Linked DNA regions of Homo sapiens. The protein of the gene in region 1 interacts with the protein of each later gene in a pairwise test. Each region holds a gene or a part of one and is shown in the gene's direction. Other genes may lie near its edges.

What was found. The genes of interacting proteins can lie anywhere in the genome.
Region 2: the proteins of SMOC1 (region 1) and VGLL3 interact in binary tests that used the Homo sapiens proteins (3 or more experiments, as listed by UniProt).

What each region holds. Positions count from the first base shown.
Region 1 is NC_000014.9:70,025,916-70,029,415, forward strand, and holds part of SMOC1 (SPARC-related modular calcium-binding protein 1 isoform 1 precursor), read left to right. Parts: intron 1-3,500. UniProt on the Homo sapiens protein: Plays essential roles in both eye and limb development. Probable regulator of osteoblast differentiation.
Region 2 is NC_000003.12:86,977,650-86,981,149, reverse strand, and holds part of VGLL3 (transcription cofactor vestigial-like protein 3), read left to right. Parts: intron 1-2,347; coding exon 2,348-2,624; intron 2,625-3,500. UniProt on the Homo sapiens protein: May act as a specific coactivator for the mammalian TEFs.

The sequences.
Region 1 (3,500 bases):
TCCTGAGAAATTGAAATAACTCAATAGAAGTTCAATACTACTATTCTTCTTTGTAAGATGAACTTACACTGTGTTGCAGTTTACTCTTCCGATTACCCCTTGAAGCCAAAAGGATTCTCTCTCTCAATTCCTAACCTCTAGCACCGTACATGGCACCTGGTAATTCATTAAGTCCTTGTTAGATGAATGAATAAGTGAAGGAATGAATGGATGGGGGGGTTGCCCCTTCCGGTGACATTATGCTCTGACACGCTTGGAATTTGTGGTCCTTTCGCAGAGCACAGTCAGATGGCCAATGTCGGGAAGAGACCATCCAGTGTCAATGTAGACCCCAGGCATACCAGGGGCACTCCTGGGCTAAGCGATGATGCTCTGTACTGCCCCTGCCTTCGGCCCCCTTCCCGTGCTAGTAGTTCTGGTCTGCACAGCACACGGAAGCCAAGCAATGGCTGAGTGTGGTGAGCTCAGATCCACCGAGCTCAGGGACTCCTCCTAGCCTTCCTCTGAAGCCTTTCCAGGCACCAGGTGTCTGCCAGTCCCAGCTGACATACAGGACCTGACAGAAGCATCCAGAGAAAACTGAAGTAGAATGTAGATTTAGGGATCCCTGGTCATCTGGATGTTCCTCCTCAATCCAGGCTCAGCTGCAGACAAGTGTTAGTTTCAGTTATCCTCATAGCTTTGCCCACAGAGGCCCCTAGGGTGCTTTGGAGTGCAACTGTCATTCTTCTTGGCCCAATACACCCTCTTGAACCTCTCACCTCAAAGGTAGGACTATGGAAAGTCTGGCCAGAAAGCCCGTGTCTGTGACATGTCTCTGAATGTATATACACATGTCTGTTTGTGCATGTCTCTGTGGGTAGGCCTGAGTGTGCACCTGTCTGTGTTCATGTCTGTGTCTGTTTGTACATGGTCTACACTTATGTCTTTAAGTATGGCTATGTGTGCATGTCTATACACATGTGTGCATGCATTGTGCATATGTCTGTGTATGTCTGTGCATGTGTCTGCATATGTGTGTGTATGAGTGTGATGGAGTGAGGGAGAGTAGAACATTGAGATAAGAGGAAGAGGGTATGTAGGATTAATCAATGGGGTGGGGTGAAGTGGAGGCTGAGTAGACTTAAAGCCTATGCAGAGGCAGAAAGGATTCCTGTGTCCCCACTCTCCATTTCAACACACACCACAGGACACACTGCTCTGGACCCAAGCAGCCCAGAGCTAGAAGGCTCTGTGGGTCCTCTAGTCCATTTTGCAGTCTAGGAGTCAAGGCTAGCCCAGAGAGGAGTAGCGATTTGCTCAAGGGTACATGTGAGGTACCACCACTGCTGGCGCTTGGCCCAGCCTCAGGATTCCTGGGCCAGACTGCTGTCCCCTCCAGGAGAAGGACCCCAGTGTGTTTGAAGATGTCGCCTTGTGTGAGCAGGCCAGTCTTGGTTGCCTGGTGAAGCCAAGGGAGTGGCCAGTGGGGGAGTCTGGGGAAGAGGGGGAGCAGACCAGCCTGGGGGCAGCGTGGGCAGGAGTAGAGGTGTTGCAGGGGGTGAGGGTGCCACCAGCAACCTGAGTGGGGAAGCCCACAGTTTCCAGGCAGGCAGTGCCTATGGGATGACGGACCACTATTGAGAGGCCCAGGAGCAGTGTGGGTATACCATGATCAGGCACAAGTAGGGGCTGGAGTAAGTGCAGAGGCCCTGAAGTCAGATGGGCCTGGCTTGATTTTAATCCCAGCTCTGACAATTACCGGATCTTTAATCCTTGGCAAGTTACCTAAACTCTCTAAGCCTCCGTTTCCCCATTTGCAAAGTGGAGATTATAGTACCTACCTCAACGATTTGGTGAGGATGTAATCAGATAATGTGTGTGAAGAACTTAGCACGGTACCTGGTACATAGCGAAGGCACAAAAGAAATTGGTAGCGGTAGAGGAACATGTCCGGGAAAGAAGGTATGAGTTTCAGAACTGCCCCCTCCATCCCTCTGCTCTGCAGGGCGGCAGAAAAAAGCCCCTGTGGTCAATGGTGTGCAGGGGCTCCGGGAGCAGAGCCTATGCGTCGGTCATCCATCCCGTGTCGTGCGGTGCCCCCTGGTGGGCTGCGAGGGGCTTGCATGCTAGGTGGGGACAGAAGCTGGCTGGGGGAAGGATGCCGAGCTTGGGGACCAGTAGAGTTTTGGGTCCAAGGGACTGAATTTTTGGAAATTCCACTGGATCACAGATATTTTACCAACCAGACTCCTCCCTGGAGAGCTGAATTCTCTGCATAACATGCCTCTTTCTTCACTTTCCCAATTTATAAAGCACCTTCACTGGGATCATTGTCACTGTCCTGTGAGGCAGGCGGGGTGGGGTCTAGTGCCTCCTTTTCTCAGAACTATCCGCTCTTCTTTTGCCTTGTCTGAGGATGCCAACTGCCTGGGGCTCAGCCTTCTTCTCTTCCATCCTCCCTGATGGCTCAGAGCATGATTCTGGAGGCAGCTAGCTAGGTCGGAATTTGCTTTGCCGCATGGAAGCTGTGCCATCCTGGGTGGGTTACTTGATATCTCCAAGCTTCAGTTTCATCATCCTAAGATGGAGATAATTTTATCACTCTCAAATAAAGTCGCTCTGAGGATTAACTGATAGGACTTAGGTAACAGGATTAGCACATAAGCCTCCATGAAAAAGAGCTGGTTACGGCTAGCTGTCCATTTTGCTTCACACATCTCAGCCTGGTGGGCAGGACTGCTGTGCACCTCCTTTTTAGATGTGCTGACCTTTCTACTCAGCAAGGAGAGAAGCAGCTGCTGGAGGGAGTGGAGGAAAGGTGGGATTTGAAGTCAGCAGCCTGACTCTGCCGCTTCCCACCTGCCTGCCTTGGGGCTGTCACCTTCTTTTAGAGTTCATGTCCTCCTCTGTAAAATTGGATAAACCGATATCCACCCCACGCCCACTCCACCCCATGTCCGCTCTCCTTTCTTCAGTTGTAAGGAATATTGGCATAACCCAGGGGACATGGAGCTGTGGCTCACATGACCAGCGGGTGGGCTTGGGTTCTGCAGCGCTGTACACTCCTCAAAGCCCTTTCTCCTCCTCCATGAATTCAGTGGATCCTCAAGGCAATTCTGAGAGGGAGGCAGAGCAGAAGCCGTACAGCTGTGGTTCTAGCTCCCAGGCTGTAGACTGACCCAGAGAGGTTCAGGGGCATGCACAGAGTCACGTGGCCCTAAGCATCTCGGAGTGGTGGCGGGGGGCAGCTCTTGATGTGCTTGCCCCCAGCTCCTCGCTCCTCTTCAAGAGGCCAGGACCTGCTGGAGCAGGCGTGGCAGTTTCCACAATGGCTCAGCACCCTGTGGGGAGATGTGGGTGTCAGCAGAATGAGGCTGGGACTTTGTGTAAGTCGCCCCTCTGCTCTGAGCTGCTGCTGGATTCCTTCTACCTCTGACATTCTGTGACTCGGGGAACCAAGACCTGGGACAGTTCTGTCCAGGTACATCAGCACCAGAGCCCTTCTTAGTGGATAGCTG
Region 2 (3,500 bases), on another chromosome or scaffold:
CATGGCCTTCAAATCCTTTACATATATATAACTTCAATTTTATTTCATCTAAGAATTAATTGCTGTCAATTAAGGATAAAATAAAACTTTGACTTTATTTGGATTGTTAATGTAGCCAGGCTCTTCTATTTAAAGAATGAATGTTACAATTAAACAAATAAAGCATTTATATGCAAAGCCCCACTCTCACAAACTGATGCTGAGCTGGACATTAACAGAAAAAAGAAATTAGTTTCACGGATAAGAATGAACACTTGTGGACAATGATGCCACCATGTAGATAGGTTTTAGGGTTTTTTTTTTTCATAGAAAAACAGAGCTGCTTTCTAATGTGCCCGAATATTCAGCAGAGAGTGTGTGCATATGGTTAAAACAATACATGTTTTAGGTAAATACACATGCACCCGAAGAAGCAGCACTGTGATTTGACTAATAAATCATAATATTCATTTAATTTTTTAATGGAATTTAAAACTAGGAATAGTTTTAGAGGTTATTTAGTTCGATTCCCTCATTTTACACATACCATATGTTTCTATGGTGTTTATACTATTGAAGTTAAATATAAACATGTTCAAATCTGTGCAGAGGTAGATTATGAGAAATAAAAGCAATCATCTATTCATCAGCAAGGCACATTCACTTACAAAGTATGAATTATCTATTCATCAACAAATCATAACCATACTGATACGAATTTTAAATAAAAGCAAAACACATATTTATAAATAACCATCCTGAAACGATAACTAGAAGTTCATAGTATTTCTGAATATTTCAGTACTCACCTTATACAAGAACAACATATTCACTGCTAGGGGAAAGGGACCAATTTATTGAATGGTGCATTTATAATTTGAAGCTATAGATATTGAAGCTAGTAATTACATTAGAAATATAGAGTCTGGGGTATGTATTTTGCTAACATTTGAAAAATTACTGGGTATTCTGGAGTGATTTATCTATTTCTACTCACATTCATTTTCCAGCATGCGTTTTTTTCAAAGTAAAAAAAAAAAAAAGGTATGATCAAGGATCAGGTTTTGCAGACATAAAGATGACAGAGAAAGCTCATTTCGTCACTAGAATAATACATTTCATATCTTTAGCATTATCTCCTTATATGTAATTCGCATTGAAGTTGATAATAAATGGAATATGTGCTCAGTGAAAAATGTTTGGAAATACTGAAAAGCAGAAATAAGAAAATGACAATTAACTATAAACGTATTACACAGAAAAACAATACAAAATACATTTTTGTAATTTTTTTACTCTAGATATCCCTCCCTGCCTTTCCCCACCAAATGTATGCACACGCATATCTATATGCTAGATATCCCTCCCTGCCATTCCTCAGAACATATATATGCACACACATGTCTATACCTGTATGTTTTTCTTATGCATTCTGACTCTGCAGCTTACATGATTTGTGACTTTTGGCAAGTAACTTAATTTTTCTGTGCTTTAGCTTTTTAATCTTTACAATATGGATAGTATTAATAGCCATGTTATAGAATTGTAAAGATTAAGTGAGGTGATAAATATAAAGTTTTAGAAACATGTCTGAAATAATGTATATTATTATTAGAATTATATTTTTAAACATTTTAAATTAACAAATCTTTCTCATTTTTAATTGAAAGATTAACCCACTACTAGTATTTTGTAATATTTTCACTAAGCCATAATGAAATCTTTTCCCCTCATGATAATGGTGGTAAACGGAACATCTAAAAAATATGTTCCATGCAAAATGCATCTTCACACAGACTTATTTTGCCATTTTAGTTTGATTTTTGAAGACATGAGTTCAGCACATCTGCCAAATCCTTTTATAAGATGCTACATTCCTGTTTTTATTTTAGTTTATTTTATTTATGAAAAGTTCTTTTCTTCTCCACTCCACCCCCAGACAGTCATTCCTCTCTGTCCTAAACCATAACACTGCTGTACATTGCATTTTTAAAAATAAACCAAAACTGGGAAGAAAAACTTTTTAAAAAAGTAATTCTCCTGTTGGCCTAGCTAGATGAAAAAACAAAAAGCAAAACAAAAACAAAAGCAAAAACAAAATCTTGTATTGAAAATATACTATTTGATAATGGGCTTTTATGTTCGTTTGCCAAATGTAGAATCACAGAGTTTTTGTTGTATTTTTTTTAGTGTGGGAAGGAGGCAACTGGTTTGGGGAGGAAAAAGATGGAGTAAAACAGATGAAGAAGAATCAGTTTGCAAACATATGTTAATATTTAGATTCTTTTTTTAAAAAAGTGAAAACTTAACTAGTGAATGCTTTTCTACAAACTGTCTTTGATACTGTGTTTTGTTTATTCCATCCCAGAAGAAGTTAGCGGTATTCAGCAAGATGCAGGACTCTCTGGAAGTCACCCTTCCCAGCAAACAAGAGGAGGAGGATGAGGAGGAGGAGGAGGAGGAGAAAGACCAGCCTGCCGAGATGGAGTACCTTAACTCTCGCTGTGTCCTTTTCACTTATTTCCAGGGAGACATTGGGTCAGTAGTGGATGAACACTTCTCAAGAGCTTTGGGCCAAGCCATCACCCTCCATCCAGAATCTGCCATTTCAAAAAGCAAGATGGGGCTAACCCCCCTATGGCGAGGTAAGAATTCAAAAGCAGATGTTCTCCAGGGCACTGTCTTTGTTTCGCAACTGCCTGTACCAGGTTCCAGCTGGAGACTTGCCCCTGAGGATGGATATCCACTTGCTTTTTAATATTTAAGGACAGTGAGGAATTTCTTTCAGACAAACAGCTGGATCGGTTTTGTCACATGTGGAATGTAGGGTTGGAAAGGATGCAGTCACACCCCTTAAATTCCTCATGGAAAGTAGTGATACAACCGGCTTGAGTTTATAGTGGCTGCACTGAGCTGCGAAGTACCATTCCTAAAGCCCCAGTGGCCCAATTTGGATCTCTAAATAATAGGCGTGTCTAAATCAGCTTTTAAAAAATTAGCTCTTGCTCATTCCAATAGGTGCTATGTGGTGACATACCAGAGACCTGAGTCTGACCCAGGAATACAGACATTGAAAGCTGTCTGTGTTCTTTGAATAGGCTTCTTTATCCTGATTTGTTATTGTATTAACTCTTTATAGTATACACTCTAGGCATTTTGGCAGCATCCACATGGCTTAAACTAGTGTTTTTACCTTGATAAAGAAAGAGCAGCACATTGGACTCCTTTATTTCTCTCTGTATCGAGCTCACAGAGATGTGTTTGAAACTGATTTCTGACTCATAGAAAATTATTGGTGACATCTAAATCAGGGTAATTACAGGGTTAGATAAAAACATAATACGTCATTCCAATGACAGCTTCAGAGAAATTTGCTACAGTGGTGATTTCTTCCAAATTCACCTGGTTATAGGAATGATCTAGTAAAATGGTTCTCGAGGTGTGATTTTCCTGACCAGGAACATCAGTGCCACATGGGAGCTTGTTAGAAGTGCGAATTCTTGGGCTCCACCCCAGACCTG